2 separate regions of the Homo sapiens genome follow, and region 2 is linked to region 1. Evidence: fine-mapped expression QTL. A gene starts in region 1. The other region holds a variant in brackets. All regions are shown on one strand. Distances are between the middles of the regions.

Region 1 (10,855 bases):
TCCCAGCACCTGGCTGAGCCAGTAAAGACAGACTGAGGCATTGTTGGATGGCTGGGAGAGGTGGCTCATGCCTGTAATGCCAGCACTTTGGGAGGCCAAGGAGAGAGGATCACTTAGCTCAGAAGTTCAAGACCAGCCTGGGCAACATGGCAAAACTCATGGCTACCAAAAATACAAAAATTAGCCAGGTGCGGTGGCGCATGCCTGTAGTCCCAGCTACTTGGGAGGCTGAGGCAGGAGGATCACTGGACCCCAGGAACTCGAGGCTGCAGTGAGCCATGATCATACCACTGCACTCCAGCCTGAGTGAGAGACAGACCCTGTCTCAAAAAAAAAAAAAATACATAAAAAATAAAAAATTTAAAAAAGTGTTTTGAGGACACAGTGCCATAAAATTTTAGATTCAAAGAGAGAAATGGTTTTAAAAACATTACCTGTTCTCCAAAGTGTCTATATTCAAAATATAATGTAGAATGTTAAATCATAATCACTTCCTGCCAGTTCCTATCTTTACAGACAAACCCTGAAATGGTAAGAAATTTGTTATATTTAACACACACCAAAAACACAAAGGAGACGCCACTGTGGTCGTGCCAGTCCTAAATCATGGAAATAGTTTTTTTCTTTTTTTTTGAGACGGTCTCGCTCTGTCGCCCAGGCTGGAGTGCAGTGGTGCGATCTCGGCTCACTGCAACCTCCGCCTCCCTGGTTCAAGCGATTCTCCTGCCCCAGCCTCACGAGTAGCTGGGATTACAGGCGCGTGCCACCATGCCCAGCTAATTTTGTGTATTTTTAGTAAAGACATGGTTTCACCGTGTTAGCCAGGATGGTCTCGATCTCCTGACCTCGTGATCCGCCCGCCTCGGCCTCCCAACGTGCTGGGATTACAGGCGTGAGCCACCATGCCCGGCAGAAATATTTTTATAGTCTGCAATACAAGAGTTTTATGGCAATTCGGGCCAGGCGCGGTGGCTCATGCCTGTAATCCCAGCACTTTGGGAGGCCAAGATGGGCGGATCACCTGAGGTTGGGAGTTCGAGACCAGTCTGACCAACATGAAGAAACCCCATCTCTACGAAAAATACAAAATTAGCCAGGCATGGTGGCGCATGCCTGTAATCCCAGCTACTTGGGAGAATCACTTAAACCCTGGAGGGGGAGGCTGTGGTGAGCCGAGATCACGCCATTGCCCTCCAGCCTGGGCAAAAAGAGTGAAAACCCCATCTCAAAAAACAGAGTTTTACTGCAATTCAAGCTTCTTTTGGACAGAAATTTATCAAGCCTGGTCATGTTTTTGTCATGTTCTGCCTGTTAAAAGAAGAATCAAAGTTTGGGTACAAAATGCATAATCCATCTGTCCTTAGATAACAAAACTCGTAATTCCTATTCATTCAGGGATTCATTTCTTTAAACTGTACCTGAGATGTCCATCTCAAAAAGTACCTTTGTTTGTTTACAAAGATTATAATTCAAGTTGAAGTTTGTTTTGAGATAGGTTTTGTTGTCCAGGCTGGAGTACAGTGGCACAATCATCAGCTTAAAGTACTTTTACAGTCAAGTTCATATCATTAAAACCAAAAATATGGCTGGGCTCAGTGGCTCTGGCCTGTAATCCCAGCACTCTGGGAGACAGGAGGATGGCTTGAGTCCAGGAGTTCAAGACCAGCCTGTGCAATATAGTGAGACACTGTCTCTACAAATATTAGCCGGTCGTGGTGACACACGCCCGTAGTCCCAGCTACTCAGGAGAGGCTGGAGTCCAGGAATCTGAGGCTGCAGTGATCACTGACCAGACCATTGCACTCCATCCTGGGTAACAGAGCAAGACTCTGTCTCTACAAAAAATAATTTTTAATAAAATAAAATTTAAAAAACAAAATGTCCTAAGCTTACAGATCTGATGGAAATCCTATGCAGATTGTCCAACTGTTAATCATCAGGTTTGTTAAACTATTTCCCAAACCAACTCTTCCTTAACTGGGCCACTAGAGAGTGCTAGAAATGCAGGACACCGCACATGAAGTGATACAGGTAAATAAGTCCCCCCAGTCAGAGGAAAAAGCATGGAGGGCTTAAGGGCTCCTTGCTGGCACACTGCCAACTGGCACTGCAGCAGCCCCCACCTAAATTTTGAAAGAAATATTTTTCACTACCCGACTACAGTTCAACTTCTAATTGGTGAATAACATACATGTGGCTCAACAGTTTTGAAACTAAGCAACTGACATCTGAAATTAAAAGATTAATCAGAGCCATAAGTAGCGCAAAAAAAAAAAGTAATTCTTAACTTTAGGAAATTAGGCAAAGTTAGTTAATGATGGTTTAAACTTGACTCCTTCTATTTGGTTAAAAAATACCAGAGGGGGGAAGAAAGGGAGAGGGAGGGAGGGAACGGAAAAAGAAAAGGAGGGAGAGGAAGAGTGGGGCGGTCCCCACTTCATCCAAAGTAGTAACAAATCTTGGGCGCGTCACGTCCCAATCCGGACACTACTGACCCAGAGTAGCAACAGCACATTCCCTGTAGAAGACTGGCTTCAACCAGGCCACCCTTTTTTTTTTTTTTCCGGAGGGGGTCTTGCTCTGTCACCCAGTCTGGAGTACAGTGGCGCGATCACTGCTCACTGCAACCTCCGCCTCCCGGGTTGAAGTGATTCTCCTGCCTCAACCTCTGGAGTAGCTGGGATTACAGGCGCCCGCCATCACACCCGGCTACTTTTCGTATTTTTAGTAGAGATGAGGTTTCACCATGTTGGCCAGGCTGGTCTCGAACTCCTGACCTCGTGATCTGCCCCCCTCGGCCTCCCCACGTGCTGGGATTACAGGCGTCAGCCACCGCGCCAAGCCAGGCCATCTTTTCTTAAAGACACACAATTCTACTAGCAAGACTCTAACTCCGATCCTGAAACGTTTTATGTCTGATTTTAGTTCATCCAGACATAACGCTACCTGATACCATTACAGATAAAAAAAATTTTGAGGCCGGGCACGGTGGCTCATGCCTGTAATCCCAACACTTTGGGAGGCAGAGGCGGGTGGATCACCTGAGATCAGGAGTTCCAGACCAGCCTGGCCAACATGGTGAAACCCCGTCTCTACTAAAAATACAAAAATTAGCCGGGCGTGGTAGCAGGAGCCTGTAATCCCAGCTACTCAGGAGGCTGAGGCAGGAGAATCGGCTGAACCCGGGAGGCGGAGATTGTAGTGAGCCGAAATCGCGCCACTGCACTCCAGCCTGGGGTACAAAGCGAGACTTCGTCTCAAAAAAATAATTTTTTTTTTGAATTACTGCTTAACATACCCTACAATCTCAGCGAGCCTGTTGGTATTCCCATAAATAAAAAAATGCCACTCAAGGTGGAAACTGCCCTCACAACTCCCAATCTCGGATTGTAATCTACAAAAGCGCGTGAAACTGTAAAAATAAACTTTATTCACATAGAAGAATCACGTTACGTTTTGATTTCCAAACCCTTACCAAGCCTAACTGCGGGACGCAAGACTGGGCTCCCCGAGGGGACTCACTCCTGGTTAAGGCCTCCCACAGCCCACGGCGCGCTTCCAAGTCTACTCCTCAGCCGCAACGCAAACCCGGGCTGTGGCTCCGCACCCACAGGCTCGCCCCGGCCCCAGCCCCTGCCGCCCTCCACCTCCAGCTCCTCGCGGGCCCCGAGGCAGCCGCGAAGCTCCGGCCCCGCGCCCCCCAGCCCGCCTCCTGCCCCAGCTCCCGTCCAAGGTCGCTCCTGGCGGCGGGTGACCGCTGCAGACCAACGCCCAGAACTCGACAGCCCCCCATCCTTTACTCATTTTTTTGAAATATTTCTTTCTCTGCACCCGCATCCAGCCCCGAACCCTCCAGAACCAGGAGAGTTCCCCGCAAGGACCTCGCGCAGGAACGCCCGGGACCGCCCACCGAAGTCCCAGGCTCCCCAGGCAGCAGGGCAGGAGAACACCACCCCCGGCCCGGAAGCACTCGCCCCTCCCGGGCCAAGAAGGATAAGGGAGGGGGAGGGCGGAGAGAAAGGAGGGGGAGGGGACAGAGAGGAGGGGGAGGGGACAGAGAGGAGGGGGAGGGAAAGGAAGAATGGGGGAAGGGGGGAGAGGGGAAGGATAGGAAGATGAGGAGATAAGGGAAGGGAGAGAGTTGAGGGGGGAAGGAAAGGAGGGGGAAGGGGTAAAGAGAAGAGAGGGCAGAAGGAGAGAGGAAGAGGAAGGACAGGGAAAGGCAACGGGGGAAGGGAAGAGGGCAGGAAAAGGGCCCCTCCGCCGGCCGGCCTCAGGAGCGGCAGAAGGCCCCGAGCCCGCCGCGCGGTGGGCTGCCGGGCGCACCTTGCGCTTGCGGGCCTCAGCCGTGCCGCTCCACACGAAGCACTGGTAGATGGCCCGCAGGTTCTGCTTCCAGTTGTCCACCTTGAAGCTGCCCAGGTGCGAGCAGCCCGGCGGCGCTACCGCCAGCTCGGCGTCCATGGCCTCGCCCTCGGGCTCTGGCCGGGACACCATGGGGGGCAAGGCCCGGCCGCGCGCGGGGGGCGGCGGCGAGGGAGGCGAGGACGACGCCAGCGCGGCGTGGGGGCTGCTCGGCGGCTGGCCAGGCTGGCCAAGGCCCGGGCGCCGAGAACAAAGCGCGGAGGCCGGACAAAGATGGGGCTGCGCGATCGCCGAGGGGAGGCTGCAAGGCAGGCACCGCCCCCGAGCTGCGGCTGCTGCGGACCGCCTGCGCTGCGCTCTCGCGGTTCGCGGAGGGTGTCGCGGGGCGGGGCGCCGCGGCCGCGGACGGAGATTACGTCACCCCCCCCCCCCCTCCCGGCCGGCACCGCACTGCGCAGTCTCCAGCCCGCGCCAGGCCCTTCCCCCACACTCGCGCGCCCGTTAGGCTCTGGGTAGACCCGCGCCCGAGGAAGCGTGGTAGGGGGGGGAAGCTAACGAGGGCCCGCCCCTCCCCTTCCTTTATTGGTAGTAGGCCACCCCCCCCCCCCCCCCGGCACCTTCGGCTATTGTCATAGGCTCTCAGTATAGTCCGTCTGGTACAGAGCCGCCTCCCGGGACCCTGGCGGCTAGACGTTCCCTGTCTCTTCCAGAGGACTGGGGAGGCGGGGGCGTGCTGCGGTTGGGCGGCGCGAGACGTCAGTCCTAGCACTGAACCGGTTTGCGCCGGCCTGAGCTCTGCCGCAAAGAGGCGGGGCGATGAGCTGGAGCGCCGCAGGTCGGGCCTCCATCCAGGGCCTGCGCTTTCCCACCCAAAAGCACCCCCTAATCGGGAGCTGTTTGCAGGGCCCCCGGTTGCCGTAACCTGGCTCGGGCCCTGCAGTGCCGTGGCCCGGGGCTGGAACTGCCTGCCAACTGCCTGGTAGGCGCTGCCCCCGGCCGCAAGCTGGGGCGCCTCCTGTCGGGAGCCCGCTGATAGTGAGGGCCAACCCGGCGCCATCCAGTTTAAAGAGGCATCTGCGCGCCACACGCCTGACACTTCACATTTGCTAGTGGCTACATTTTTCTAATGAAAAAAGAAAGTTACAGTAATATATCTCAACCCAATAAAGTCAAATTATTTCAGCATGTAGGCAGTATTGCAAAATCGTTAGTGGAATGTTTTACAGTTTTTGCAGCAAGTCTTGGAAATCTGGTATTTACACTTAAAGCACATCCAATTCCTACTAGCTGCTACCGCAGTGGGCGGCACAGGTCTAATCGGTATACAAATAACTGACCCAAGGCAAACTGAGAAGACATTTAAAGACGAATGCAAACGAAGTTCTGGGGGAACCAGGGCGCCAAGGGTCTGGGGGAACTTGGATAAGGTGTCAGGTGTGGAGCTGCTCCCCTGTACTCATCCCGCTGCTAACTGCTTTGCTCATTCATTCATCCACAGATTGCAGGAAACAGCAATTGCCGTCCAGAACCATCACAAGTTAAAAAATAAAGATTGTGATCTCACAACACTTAAAGCTACAGGGTTTAATGGACTGACGACTGGGATAAAGCTTTTGTGGCCAAGACAAATTGCCGAGCACAGGTTTTTGCCTCATGGCCTTCGTGCTTGCAGTACCCTCTCCCTAAAATGCTTTCCCTACCCCCTCACCCTCTGCATCCTTATATTCCATGTCTGATGCTCGCTCACCTCCTTCCAGCTTTATCACACACCTCCTTTTCCGTGAAAAGGAAAATTGCCACCCTAATGAAAATTGCAAGCCCCCCAAAATTCTCCATTCCCTTACCCTGCTTTGTTTTTCTCCAAAGAATTTATCACTATCTGGCGTAATGAATATTTACTTATTTTTTTTATTGTCTCTTCCCTTAATAGCATGAAAAATTACGAGAGGGTAATCTTTTTTTTTTATTTTTTATTTTTGAGACAGAGTCTCGCTCTGTTGCCCAAGGCTGGAGTACAGTGGTGCAATTTCGGCTCACTGAAACCTCCGCCTCCCAGATTCAAGCGATTCTCCTGCCTCAGCCTCCCCAGTAGCTGATATTACAGGCGCCTGCCACCACGCCGCTAATTTTTGTATTTTTAGTAGAGAGGGGCTTTCACCATGTTGATCTGGAACTTTTACTAGAAATGGGGTTTCGTCAGGCTGGTTTTGAACTTCTGACAGCAAGTGGTCCACCAGCCTCGGCCTCCCACAGTGCTGGGCTTATAGGCGTGAGCCACTGCGCCTGGCCTCCAAGAGGGTAATGATATTGTGTGTTTTATGTACTACTACAGCCGCAAGTTCCCAGAACTGTATTGGCTACATGCAGGTACTCGGAATTACCCGGTGAAGCCCTATAGTAGTCCCAGCTACTCCAGAGGCTACGGCAAGAGGATCGCAGAGCCCAGGAGGTCAAGGCTGCAGTGAGCTGTGATTGTGCCACTACACTCTAGCCTGGGCAACAAAGCAAGACCCCATCTCTAAACAAAACAAAACCCTGCCGAATTAATTAACCCGAAACACATTTACAGAAAAATCTAACGAGACCATTTCTAGAATAAAACACTTGTTAAGGAAAACCATGTTTATGTTAGAGGAAAGAATGTCAGCTTACAAAAAACTAAAATCCTAACTAGTAAGTCAGGAATTACAAAAATATGTGATCCATCTCTATAAATATTGATGTAAGGAGTTTTCTCATATTGTTGGGCTTATACAAATATGATTTGGCTTCACAAATGTGCACTTAGCATTCAGGCCCTAATATTTATTATCTTTTTTTTTATCAATACGATCATCTAAGCACAGAAGAATATCTGTGCTGTCCACTTGAATCAATTATAATGATTTAAATGTTCCATAATCAGAACAACCTTAGTGATTTTAAAAAATTTAAACTACAGAATATACTCTTGAGAAGCAGTCCCCAAAAGATGTATGGATGAAGTGCTTTTTTTCTAATGGGAAACAAATGGAAACGTTAATGACGATTAATAGGAGAATCATTGAATAAATGATGGACTAGCCATTCTAGGGAATAGTACACAGCTATTAAAAAGAATGAAGTCCAGCTTGGGCAATGTGATGAAACCCTATCTCTACAAAGAAATTAAAAAAAAAAAAAAAAAGCCAGTTGTGGTGGTGCACGCCTATAGTCCCAGCTACCCAGCAGGCTGAGGCGGGAGGATTGTTTGAGCATAGGAGGTCGAGGCTGCAATGAGCCCTGATCATGCCAGTGATTCCAGCCTGGGCAACAGAGAAAAAAAAAACTAGATCTGTAAGTACTAGTACAAAAAGTCATAAAACATAAATGAATACAACAAATTGCAGAAAATTACAGAAAATATGCTGACGTTTGTAGGAAAATAATGGAAGGCCTGGAAGAAAGAAACACACCCATCAATAACAGTAACTTCTGGAAAGGAAAAGGTAGATGTGACTTAATCTGTAATGTTTGAATGTTTTCTTACAATGAAAATTAATATATTCCTTTGTATTTAAAAATCACTAAAACTTAAAAAGAAATGACAAAGTGTCATGGTACGAGGGAACACACTGTTCTACAACATGTAGAAAACAGTGGCCCACATGTTCAGTATATGCATTTATTCATGTATCCAAGAATCAAGTCAGATTGCTAAATTACAGTCAGGCTCTGCCACCTACTATCTGTGTAACCTTGGGCGGATTGCCTAAATTTCTCAGCCTGTTCACTTATCTGTTAAAATTGGGAGAATATCAGCTCTGTGCTTACGTTGAAGTGTATGGCAAGGAATAAATGAGATAATCCATACAAAACTCTTAGCAAGTGCCTGTTGTTAATAAGGGCTCAAGAAACATTAGCAGTTATTGATCTGATAGTTGCTGGCAATTGAGATGATTACAACAATTTCTTGCTTCAAGAATCCCAGGAGGATGGGAGAGGAGAATTTTTTTTTTTTTAATTTAAAAAAAAAAAGGCCGGGCATGGTGGCTCACGCCTGTAATCCCAGCACTTTGGGAGGCCGAGGCGGGCGGATCACAAGGTCAGGAGATCAAGACTATCCTGGCTAACATGGCGAAACCCCGTCTCTACTAAAAATACAAAAAATTAGCTGGATGTGATGGCACCATTGTAGTCCCAGCTACTCAGAAAATCGCTTGAACCCGGGAGGTGGAGGTTGCAGTGAGCCAAGATTGCACCACTGCACTCCAACCTGGGCGACAGAGCAAGACTCTGTCTCAAAAAAGAAAGCCAGGTGGCCTATGCCTGTAATCCCAGCACCTTGGGAGGCCAAGGTGGGTGGATCACTGAAGGTCAGGAGTTCAAGACCAGCATGGCCAACATGGTGAAACCCCATTTCTACTAAAAATACAAAAATTAGCCAGGCGTGGTGGTGCATGCCTGTCATTGTAGCTACTTGGGAGGCTGAGGCAGGAGGATCACTTAAATCTGGGAGGTGGAGGTTGCAGTGAGCCAAGATCGCGCCACTGCACTCCAGCCTTGGTGATACAGTGAGACGGTGTCTTAAAAAAAAAAAAGAATCCCACAGTGTAGTGTGCTTAGTAGCAATATTGCCAGCAACATTAGCGGGATGTTATAGGAATATAAAACTGCAGCGATAAAGGAAAGTCTAGGTAATATCGTAATACTCCAAGACACCTCTTTACCGTAATCCTCCCCAGACAGGTATGGTGGAGGAGATCTGGAAATGTTTTTTGATGCCTTACCTAGGTATGGAAGACAGGGTTTTTTTTTTGTTTTGTTTTGTTTTTTTGAGATGGAGTCTCGCTCTGTCACCCAGGCTGGAGTGCAGTGGCGCAATCTAGGCTCACTGCAAGCTCTGCCTCCTGGGTTCACACCATTCTCCTGCCTCAGCCTCCCGAGTAGCTGGGACTACAGGCGCCCGCCACCATGCTCGGCTAATTTTTGTATATTTAGTAGAGATGGGGTTTCACCTTGTTAGCCAGGATGGTCTCGATCTCCTGACCTCGTGATCCGCCCGCCTTGGCCTCCCAAAGTGCTGGGATTACAGGCGTGAGCCACCGCGCCCAGCCGAAAGACAGTTTTTAAAAAGGAGTGTGACCTGGTCAGGTTTTTGCCTGAAAAGGCATTTCCCACCATCCATGAGACTAACACAGCCTAAAATGTTATTTTCTAAATTTTTGTTTTCAAATTTAAAAGAAGTTAAAACACCCATGGAATTATGGTTCCTAGATGGTCAAGTAATAATCCTAGACCAATCCTCCCTCATATAACAACTATGAACTGTGGACATAATGCAAGCACAAATATCTAAAGGCTTTGGAGAGTGAACCAAAGCAGGCAGACCTAGTTAGGTGCAGACACATGGAAAAAGGGACCTGCCCAATAGGAGTAACCCGATGTCGATGGTTTATAGACTGAGGACAGGACATACTTGGCATCTAGACAGGAAGCCTGAAACTCTGATAGAAAATCCATGGTATTTCTGGACTGAAGAAGCAGAAGACAGAGTACAGAGCAACCAAAGCCACTGAAAAGTGAGAAGAGATTCAGAGATGTGAAGCCGCAGAATCTGTGCATAAACTACATCCAGGGGTCCAGTTGACCACCAAACCACTCCTATGGGGCAAATTCCAAGCAGCCAAACTAGAACAAAAAGAAGTGAGCGGAGATGTAAGCTACTAGTCAAGAAACCACTAAATACCATTAATTGCCTGCTAAAACAAAAATATTAACTGTCTTTGGAGGTATATAACAAAATTCATACTTTCAACAACATAACAGTAGTAATGTCCAGGATATGATCCAAAATTATTATTATTATTATTTTGAGATGGAGTTTCGCTCTTGTTGCCCAGGCTGGAGTGCAATGGTGCGATCTTGGCTCACTGCAACCTCCGCCTCCCAGGTTCAAGCAATTCTCCTGCCTCAGCCTTCAGAGTAGCTGGGACTACAGGCATGCACCACCACGCCTGGCTAATTTTGTATTTTTTAGTAGAGACAGGGTTTCTCCATGTTGGTCAGGCTGGTATCACACTCCCAACCTCAGGTGATCCACCCACCTCAGCTTCCCAAAGTGCTGGGGTTACAGGCATGAGCCACTGCGCCCAGCTCAAAATTATTTGACATATGAGGAAACAGGAAAATGTGCCCCTTTTTAAGAAATAAAACAAGAAAGATGATCAACCATAAGATATGTCAGATATCAAAATTAGTATATGAGGAATTCAAAGCAGCTATGGTAACTGTGCACAATGAGGTAAAGGAAAGTATGTTTGAAATGAATGAAAGATGGAAAATAGCAATGAAGGCCAGGTGCAGTGGTTCACACCTGTAATCCCAGCACTTTGGGAGGCTGAGGCAGCAGGATCGCTTGAGGCCAAGAGTTCAAGACCAGCCTAGGCAACATAGTGAGACCCTGTCTCTACAAAAAACAAATTCCAGCCTAGGCAACATGATGAAACTCTGTCTCTATAAAAAAAAAAAA
Region 2 (10,855 bases), 27 kb before region 1:
GGCCAGAATGGGGTGGAAGAGCCGGGGAGATCCAAGCTGATGTCCCAGAAGGGGTCGATGGTGGTGGAGACTCCACTGGAAGCAGAGGGAAAACAATGGCTGTGAGGACTGACACCCACCCAGCTCCAGAGGCAACCCGGGGTGGAAGCCGTTCCCACATCCCTTCCCCGCTGTGCCCTTTGTCACAGTGACACTCAGGTGGGATGGGGCAGGAGCAAGAGCAGCAGTGCTCACACCCAACGTGTCCTGGCTCCCAAGGTGGCCCTGGGGAGGGGTGTGTGTGAACTCGGAAGGCGAGGGGCGCTCCTCAAGCAAGGACTTCCCAGTCTGGAGACCATCACAGTCACTGAGGGACTTGGGAGGAGGATAAACTCATGGGCCCTGTCAGAGGCTCTGAATCCACAGGTCTATCTCAGCTGCATCTAGAACTTGGGGCCTGTGACCCTAGGCAACACTGGAGACCCCTGCACATTTCACAGAGCGTGCCCAGGCCAGGCCCGGTGGCCTGCACTGGACAGTCAATGCTGCATTTCACAAGGCCAGTTCCTTGCTAGAAATTTATTTAACAATATAAAAAATGAAAACTTGCAGACTGGGAAATTTACTCTCGATATTTATACAGGATTTAAATCTTGAGACAATCTCCTACTAATGGAATTCAGTAGTTAAGGGACAGCGAGGAGGTCCAAATTGCTCAGAGCAAACTCGGTTTCTAATACTCAGAGACAAGGCCCCAAACGGTCTATGCTCCTTATAGAAAATGGCCCCCGTGACACAGGCAGCACTGGCCTTTCCCGATATTTGCTCGTCTTATGCAGTTTAGAAGTGACAGTCCATTTCGGGTTCTGAAATAATTTCGGTGGATCATGTCCAGGGTTTTTAAACTTCAACTGAAGTAAAGAACAGAGCCAGGCACGGTGGCCCATGCCTGTAGTCCCAGCTACTTGGGAGGCTAAGGAGGGAGGATCGCTTGAGCCCATGGGTTCAAGGCCAGCCTGGGCAACATACACAAGACCCCATGCCTGAAAAAAACAAAAACAAAAACAAAAAACCTGTAGCATGCACTGAGGTTGGGTGAGAGGGTCCCCTGACCTAACAAAGCAATGGATTCTCCCTGCACTCAACACTTGAGGCTCTAAGCAGAGACCACATCTGAGAAGAATTAGGGCCACTACATCAGAAAATGGAACCAGAAACCATAAAATAATGAAAACTAACACACTTCGAAGCACGTAGAAAAACAATCCACCATGCATGATCCACGCCTTCTTGAAGAGGGCTCTTTCACTTGGTCCCTGGTCAAGGACTGTAAGATGCAAAATGGTAGGGGAAGCTTCCAAGAACACACTGCTGGCTGTAGACAACAGCCAAGACCTCAACACGAAGGGCTCGCATCCCGAGGGGACACCTGCCCTACGACCTCCCCAAGAGGAAGCACCCCCACCCCACAACCTTCGCTCTCATGGCGTCTATTAATCATTTATCTCATAGCCTCCTTAAAGACCTCTCAGAGCACACACAGCTCTGGAGACTGGGAGGATGTCAGTACGGCCCCAGAGGGTTTGATATTGCCGAGCACGCAGCCTCTCACTTACTGGCAGACTTGGCAGGTGACGTCTGACTGCAACCCGCCTGTGAAGATCTGGTCTATGATGCAGTTGCAGTGGTTGGGGTTGTTGGCCTTCTTCCCATTGTCATCACCTGGAGACAGACCACGGCTCTGGGATTAGTGTCTCCCCAAATATGGGGAGTCTCTAAGGGAAGAGCAGTTCACCCTGCAGAAGCCTGGGGGAGCCAGGGCCAACGCTTTAAAAGGCCATGTGAGGACACTCCTCATTTTAGCAGAGGGTGTCCTTGTTATTTTAATATGACGAGAAATCACAGCACTTGGATTTTCAATGCTCCTTTTTCTCATTCCCTAACAAGAGCCCCACAGCTTCAGTCTTGCCAAGAAAACCCACCTAATGCCCAGTGACTGAGCAGAATAATCGATTCCCATTATCATATAAAGAATGACTGAATCAATATTGTTCCAGTGAGACAGCTGAACATATGGTGGGCCAGGTACACCCGGGGAAGCCCCAGCAACCTCCCTCCCTGAGTAGGTATCATGGTGCCCCAAGTTCAGAAAGTGACACCGCAGGACACAGGCTGTCCTCATCAGCTAGAGCCCCCAGGGGACAGCGTGTCTTCCAGTCAGTTGCATCTGGAAGTGCCACTCCCACCCTCTCTATTCAATACACACTTCATTCATATCCATGTGTGCAGATCTGTGAAAAAGAAACTTAAGTAGCAGAACTTAATTCGTGTGTGGAATACATATTCTACATAACTTCACTAGACAGTGGGGACAGGGCACGAGGACACCTGTATATACATCACAGTTCAAAGACGTTGAATCATGACAGAGGAATAGAGAAGGGCCACTAAGTCTTCTGAGAGCAGAAGGTTTAAGATTAGAGAGAAAAATGCTTCCCAGAGGGATCTCAAATTCATGGGACAAAATTCAGAGGACAAGAATATCCATACAGGAAGGCGCAAAGAATGATGAACAGAATGGCCAGGCGCGGTGGCTCACGCCTGTAATCCCAGCACTTTGGGAGGCCAAGGCGGGCGGATCACGAGGTTAGGAGACCGAGACCATCCTGGCTAACACGGTGAAACCCCGTCTCTACTAAAAATACAAAAAATTAGCTGGGCATGGTGGCGGGCGCCTGTAGTCCCAGCTACTCAGGAGGCTGAGGCAGAAGAATCACTTGAACCTGGGAGGCGGAGGTTGCAGTGAGCTGAGATCGCACCACTGCACTCCAGCCTGGCGACAGAGCGAGACTCTGACTCAAAAACAAAACAAAACAAAACAAAAGATGAACAGAAAGATGCCGTGAAGGCCACAAGGACAAAATGCACGTAACCAAGGCCATGTGGCCAGGCCACCTCGCTGAACAGCTCTGGCAACCAGGTTTCTAAACAGAAGAACCTTACATTTCTTTTCAGACATTTCCAAGGGAATTCTGTCAGAAGCACGTCAGAGGTCACATTTTGTCATGTGAACATTTAACAGCAATGCATTTTTGAACAAGTGATTTTTAGAACATCTTTCTGCTGCTTACAGAAGGCTCTTCGTTATTCTCACTAGGTGCTTGGGGTAACAGCATAGTCACTTCCACAGTGGCTCTTTCCTCTCTTATAAATCATACTAGGACATGAAATTCTACCTAAGCTACTAAGTAACTTTCCTTTGATTTCTAGGTAAGAATTAAAAGGATCACGTAGTTTTTCAGAGGAAAAAAAGTAAGTACCAAAAGAAAACAGAACCCAAAGTCACATTTGACCAAAACCAGCCATTTTAGCTCAACTGTGGGTTGTTTCTGGGCTGTGATCTCAGAACCCATAGGTTGTACGTAAGCGCCTAGGGCCCGGGTGCACAGCCTTGAGACGGATGAGAAGCGATGGGAAGGCCAGCCCACCAAGCTGTTCAACTCGGTGAACCGTCAGAACAGGACTCTGTTCTCTAAAAGACTCCAAGTTAAAATTAACTGATAGGATATCGGCTACAACTAGCTGTGCCAGCCCAGAGACCACAGGAAACTCACAAGCAGCCAGGTGCCCTGTGACCTGAGCGCATGGGTTCTCAGAGTATGGCATCTGAACCAGCGGCATCAACATCAGCTGGGAACTGATTAAGAGTGAAGAAGCCCCTGCCCCCCACAGATCTGCTGAATCAGAAACGCCAGCACGGGCTTTAGGAAGACCTGCAAGTGACCAGCCCACACTCATCTGAGAATCACCTCTCAGTCTCTCTGCCTGTATGGATAGACTTCAGCTGCAGGTCCCTCACACTGGGATCTCCACCATGAGGAGTGGGGAGGAGCCGATCTTGGCTCAAGTCATTCATTCCCAGCCTCCCACCTCCAGCGCTAAGAGCTGCCCCTGCCAACTACCAACACCACACAACTCTGAAAAATCATCAGGGTACCACCCTGGGGCCAGGCTGTGGGACTATGTTGGGGGAGATGGCCCAGGTCCAATGAGACCCCAAGAGAAGCTTTGCTCGTCCTGTGTCCCAGCTCTCTGGCTATTTCAGAGCAACCATCAGTCCTTTTGGAGAGTCCCCAATGGGAAGGAGACAGTTGGGTGATTAAGTTGTGTTTGGGGGATGTCCAGAAGCCTCAGGCCTGATAACCCACAGGGTCCCAGAAATGCCAGGGCAGGCAGGGGCCTCAAAGCACAGGCCCAAGAGGGCTCCAAGAGTTTGCTGTTCACTGTGATCGGTCACTGAGGACCTGTCATACTGCTGGAACTACTTCCTCGCCTCTTAAAAATAAACTAGGAGGAGCCTCTCTGAGGTCATTAGTTATGGTGACTTCAGAAACAAATGACGACAAGGGCTATGATGACAAAACAATGGAATGTGTCACCTGTGCCCCTTTTTGCACGAGTGCATACACTCGCTTTGCTTCCTTCCCCTTCAAGGAAAACATCCTGCCCTGGTGGAGGGTGCAGAGCCCAGGGCCCACCTTTGCAGTGTCGGTGGAGCACGTCCAGGGCCGCGATGAGGAACTCGTGGGCGTCCTGCTGCTCGTAGCCTGCTAGGTGCCTCGCGTGGGTCCACACCAGGTGCAGCAACTTATACGGGATGTGAGGGGACCGGTGTCCAGAGTAAAACTGCCAGAGGGCGGGGAAGGAAACCTTGTCAGGAATAAATGTAGACTCTGAACACAGAGTACACACAATCAAAACCTTTATCAGATGCCTACCATTGGCTGTGGCTCATTTGACACAAATGTTTGGATTTTACTTTTCTACTTTTTGCAAAGTCTATTTTTATCTGGGCTCACTGGACTTTTCGAGTCCTCATATGAATTTTTTCCTTTCTACCATCTAGTTTTCCACATATAAGCCTAAAAAATGAATTATGACTTGCTACTATGAGATCACATGCAAATAAAAGTGACT[C/T]GATTTGCCCAATACTAGTTTCCTCAAAGCACTAGCCAAACCACTCAGGCCCATGGACACCAGCACCTCCGCAAAGGGAAGCACATCACTGTGATTATGCAGAATTCACCAGCATCAGCCACAGGATTCTCTGCCTCTGAGGCTAATGGCAATTAGCTGAGGGCTTGCCAGCCAGTCCTCTCCAACAGCTCAACTCCAGCCGCAGACCCAGCAGCACACCTTCCATCCCACGGCTTCCTCCCCAGGTCAGAACCCACAGAGGGGTCTTGCCTGTGCAAATACAGAATTCAGGGCAGTTTTATTTCTCATCAAAAAACCCAAAACCACAGACCACCCAAATGTGTCTGAACTGGGAAACAGACAACTAAACCATAACCCATCTACATAATGGAACCCAACTCAGACATCGAAAGCACACATCATGGATGCACGCAAGACACGGGTGAATCCACCCAGTATTACATTAAGTAGGGACAGCCAGATTCAGAAAGGCTACTTCCTGCATGCATCCATCCGTATGATGCGCTGGTAAAGGACACTCAAGGGACCGAAGACAGATCGGCAGCTACCAGGGTCTGGGGACTGGGGGTTGACTTCGGAGGGGCACGAGGGAGTTCGGAGAGGTAACAGTTCTTCATCTTGAGTAGCAGCAGTTACACAACTATGCATTCGTCGAAACTCATCTATCTATAGGCTAGAAGGTGGGTGTGACTGTAATTTACACCTTAACAAGCCGGAGTCTAAAAACAATCTAACACAAGTGAGCTTATCACTAAAGTCAGTGATACAACCACCCACCAACTTCCCAGCTGCACCCTCCTTTCTCCTATTTGGGCCGTGTCCCCAGCAGTTATGGCACATTGCAGGTACTTTGAGGAAATCGGTTAGGCTCGACCAGAGGCTGGCAATCTGTTTTTGAAAGGCTTGGACAGTAAATAATTTCAGCTTTGCAGGTTGGATAGCCTCTGTCCAACTGCTCAACTCTGTGGCTGTCCCACAAAAGCGACCAGTGACCAGACAGACATGAGTGAGCTGGCGTGGCTGCATCTCTCGCAGAGGTTACGAATGGGAACAGGCCAGGGCTGTTGGCTGGCTCCTGTGCAAGGCACCTGAAGAACAGGCACCAGCCTGCTTATTAGTTGAGGTAACTGAGCTGCTTCAGCTCTGAGAAGCATGTCTAGGTCACGGAGCCGGTGAGGGCTGAGGCGGCAGCCGTGAACGCCTTGCTCTGAACGCTGCCATGCTCTGATGCCGGGGACAGAAGTGGACAGGAACGCCACACGTGCAGCCCACAGGAACAGCCAACGTGCAGCGCGTAGCTCATGAGGACAGAGGCTCTGATGGGGCATGCTTAGAGAGACCTGGCGGTGGAGGAGACTCGCATACCAGGAGGACACAGGAGGGTGACACATGCGTGCCTTTCTGAGCCAGGAAGGTAGACCATGGAGGAAGAGGAAGGGGGAGAATCACCCGTCTTTAGAGACAAATGTCACCCACCAGGGAAGTCTCTGCCACAAGCCTCTCAAAGGGCTTCTCCTTGTTCTGAGTCAGCAGTGCGTCCCCAAAAATCACGCCAGGTCTTCCCTTTTTGGAAAACTGTGTTTTCCATAATAGACATGTATATTAAACATTAACTTACTACAAAAGGTTCTAAATGTATCTTCCTTTATCATGGTCCACCTTAAATTTTTTTTTTGAAGGTGAAAACAAAGTAACAGAAATGTTCCCCTGCAGAAGTCAATGGCGCTCACCTCCTGAAACAGTGAGGACATCTCACAGACCAGACAGGAGCTGGGGCTCTGCATCTCACAGCGGTGCCTGTCAGACAGGAAGAAGTCCCGCAGAAGTGGCGTGTGGGTCAGGGCCTGCACGATGCAGTTCATGAAGCATGTGTTCCCAAGGTTGATCAGCCCACGCAGACCTGGACACAAATCACCAGAGAGCAGGAGTTACCTGTGTGCTGAACCACAGGTGTCGCTGGATCCCAGCGGCTTCCTCTACCTCTACATACTCATTTTCTTTTATTCATTCATTCAAGCCAGAACACGATGAGATATCGCATTCTGCTAGTTTTTATGCCACTTTTACATGAACGGTATTGAAGAATGTCCACCACCATGGACCCCTCCCACTTCAGCCATTGTATGCTTTGACAGAATTACACAAATATAGTTTCTACGACAACAGGCCAGGTCAGAGTGAAGCCTAATGAACAAACAAAACAGGTTTTTAAAAATGTTCTAGGGCCAGGGCAGGGGCTCATACTTGTAACCCAGCACTCTGGGAAGCCAAGGCATGAGGATCACTGGAGCCCAGGAGTTCGAGACCAGCCTGGGCAACATGGTGAGATGTCTCTACGCAAAACACAAAAATTATCCAAACATGGTGGTGTGCACCTGCAATCCCAGCTACTTGGGAGGCTGAGGTGGAAGGATCGCTTGGGCCCAGGAGACAGAGGGTGCAGTGAACTGTGCTCCAGCCTGGGCAACAGAGCAAGACTCTGTCTCAAAAAAGAAAAAGAAAAAGTTTTAAAGGGTATTCCCTCAATTTGTAGAAAATTCAGCGAACACTTACACTCACACACATCATTTCTCTCCCTGAAGATTACTGTGCCCAGCCTCACCCTGGCCAAAATCAACTTGAGTCCCTTTACCCACACAGACGCTGAAGGCTGTGAGGGCAGGGCTGTTGCTACGCATCACTCTGCGCCCCAAGCCCACTGCAGGTCCCTGCAGAGAACAGGTGCTCAAGAGCTGGTTGCTGAGCACATTGATGAGTGACAGTTATGCAGGGCTTCAACAGAATCATGTGGACTTAAGAAACCCACAATTCTGTATTTACTTTTAAACCCTGGAAAGAAGCCTAGCTGAGAGTGACGACACGCTCCACCCACCTATGGTGCAGTTCGAGGTGATCTTTCTCCTTTTCGGGTTGTGCTTCAGCAGTTCAAGCTCCCGTTTGGTTGGTTCCCAAGTTGAAAACTTCTCTCCAACGCCTAAGCAGATGAAGGACAGTTCCAAGCGCTATTAGCTAGATTTTCACATCAAGTGTGTTTACACATAAAAGCTGTGGCGCTATGCTGTCTGTCAGGGTGCATTTCAGTGAGCAACATCCACAGCACCAGGGCTTTCTCAAACTCTACTGTGCTGAGAGGGGCTACACACAACACTTAAAGGAGCTTCTCACAGAGGGTATGAGGATGTGAGCTACGTTTCCTGCAAGAAAAGCAGCACCTCCAGTCAAAACTACCCCAACGCCAATGCCAAAACAGTTGTTTTTCAAATGTCTTCCATCCTTCAGCACAGAGATGGCAGCATCAGCACCAATGGGAACTTACATGAAGGATTCTCCCGCAAACAAGTGAAATTGAAGGAGAGAGCTTGCACTTTTCAGCAAACTGAAATAGCATAAACTCAGCGTCGAGTTACCAAACTAAGATAGATCCAACAGTTAAAAACGTGTGTGCCACAAAATATTCAGAGAGTGGTGGTAAATGCTAATTGGCATAGTATTCCATTCAACGCACACCCTATGCGCTCAGAAGTACTTGTTCCATGCCAACCAACATTTCTGAATACTTCAAAATACTTTAAAAGACACAGCATGTTGGATAGACAGAATTATAAAATGATTCTAGAAGAATTCCATTTTAATCCTGGACATACATTTCTTAGGCCCGTGCTTTAAGTGCTCTGCACAGAATAATACACCCACACTTAGTCACAATGTTATTAAATTTCTGAGAGGGAAAAGAACAGCGAACACAAGTCAGAGATTGCTCTCCAGAGAAGACTTGTTAAACACAAATAATTCTGCTCACTGAAAGAGCCCCTGTTGCTATTCTTCCCTTCTCAAAACACTGGGGTGTTTTCAATGGAGAGTAATCAAGGCAAGAATGTAAAACAGGTGTCAGGTTCATATGTTTCCTTTGCAAACAGTGATGGCTTTGCTACCAGGGAGATCAGATGCTCACCTGTCAACTGGGGTAAACCACACCTGTCACTATGTCACTATCACTGTCAACCACTATGAGCATCTGTCAGAATCAAAAACCAAAAAAAAAAAAAAAAAAAAAAAAAGGAAAAAAAACTCAGGGAAGCCAAGAAGAAATAAAAAATAAAGAAAATGACTGCATGTTTGCTCCTCTCACTCTGTGTAGCCAATAACCAGTGTGTGTGGCCACACGGTGGCGACGGCAAGTGCAAAACCCACACTGGTGCGAGAGCCGTGAGGGCAGCTCACAAGATGGCAAGGATCTGACTGTGCAGTGGGGCTGCTGGGAGACTCTCCTAGTTTCCTTCTGGTGGGTCTAGTTTCCATCTGGTGGGTCTAGTTTCCATCTGGTGGGTGCACGCTGTTGACATGGATTTAACATCACCCAAACAGTCCAGAGTTTTAAAAGAGATTCTACCACAACTTGATCCGAAAATAGTCTGCTCTCCTGGGAGGAAGGAGGTATGTTTACATATAACATTACTGCAAAGAGATCGCTTGCTAGAATTCGGCAGAGCTGAGGGCAAACCACTCAGGGATGTCCAGATACGGAGTCACCTGTCCCCGAGAGGTGTGACCTCGCCACACTCGTTCAGCCCCACATCTGCAGGTGCGCCCTGGGAGAGCTTAAGTAATGCTGGGGTTGTTCCCTTGGCCCAGCTGCAGGCCCATGGGGGACCTGCAAGGGAAGCACCCTGGAAGTGGTCCCAAGCACACGGGCAGCTATGCATGCCTCGACACTAGCCACCTCCCCTGTCATGCAGAGCTTCAGCTGACTCCACTGTGGGCCTTAGGGGAAGGTGGGGACGGCCTCTTCCCACCAGCCTGCCACTTCCCACCTAGGTACTTCTCTTTCTCCTACTGGGTCTGCCCTTGATGGACATGAGGGAACTGCAGGATCAAGCAGGTAAACTGAGGTGGAACCAAACCTTGCATTTTCCAAGCTTTTCGCTGCTCCTCCTTGGCGATTATTTCCATGTCTTTGTCATAGATGTAGTCCTGGCACAGAAAACAGTAGATGCCTCCGTACATCAGATCAATGGCTGAGGAGAGAAAGGAGGGAGGAGAAACCAAGTTGAATTAAAAACCACAATGGAAGGCTGGAGGGCAGAGTTAAACACAGTGAGGTTCTGTAGATACTGACTGTTCACAGCACCTTCCTATTCACAAGCAGGGAAGCCAGTCCAGCGGAGTCTCCTATCCTGAGCAGGTGAGGGGCATGCACTGTGTTTGGCAGCTCATGCCCAGGGCTGAGGTGTCTTAAAAAACAGAGGCGACCCATACATACTTTTCAAAGCAGCCAATACTCCAGGATCAGGACCTCTGCCACCTTCTCTGAATGCGTGGTATTTAAAACTGGTACAACTGCATTGGATATTTTCAGTCCTGGCCACCTGACACGGAGTGACTATGCTTCCCTCCATCTAGAATTCCTGACACCATCACCATAAAGAATGTGGCAGCAACTTGCTGTGACTTTTGTGGTTGGCGGCATTTGCTACTCTTACCTTAAGTACAGGGGGAAAATAGTTTCTCATCGGATGACTTTGATTGACATCTTGACCCAGAGCTGCCTGAAGGTGGGTCTTCTACCACAATTTCTCAACTGCATCTTCTAAAAAATGGGACTAATAGGCCAGGAGCTGTGACTTATGCCTGTTACCCCAGCACTTTGGGAAGCCGATGTAGGCAGATCATTTGAGGCCAGGAGTTCAAGACCAGCCTGGTCAACATGGTGAAACCCCATCTCTACTAAAGTACAAAAAATTAGCCAGGCATGGTGGCACACGCCTGTAACCCCAGCTATTCGGGGAGCTGAGGCGTGAGAACAGCTGAAACCTGGGAAGGGGAGGTTGCAGTGTGCCAAGATCTTGCCACTGCACTCCAGCCTGGGCAACAGAGTGAG

Direction of the effects. Alleles are on the strand shown, and positions count from the first base shown. SD is a standard deviation of normalised expression in the study named.
As copies of C replace T in region 2, the expression in thyroid of the gene that starts at base 4,673 in region 1 goes up (small effect, 0.31 SD a copy in GTEx).

Evidence for each region.
Region 2: its variant is fine-mapped to the expression of USP22 in thyroid (GTEx, PIP 0.91).

The regions. Positions count from the first base shown.
Region 1 is chr17:21,038,339-21,049,193 of GRCh38, forward strand. USP22 (ubiquitin specific peptidase 22) reads right to left here and starts at 4,673. Exons shown (of 13, transcript NM_015276.2): 1 at 4,327-4,673. The coding sequence starts at 4,497. RefSeq lists a silencer at 4,359-4,958 and enhancers at 4,494-5,443, 5,444-6,391.
Region 2 is chr17:21,011,235-21,022,089 of GRCh38, forward strand. USP22 (ubiquitin specific peptidase 22) reads right to left here. Exons shown (of 13, transcript NM_015276.2): 3 at 9,879-9,992; 4 at 7,850-7,951; 5 at 6,708-6,877; 6 at 4,518-4,665; 7 at 1,596-1,701; 8 at 1-75. Among named protein-coding and RNA genes, the nearest start is that of USP22, 26 kb to the right of the region's middle. The variant C/T (reference allele first, on the strand shown) is at 4,957.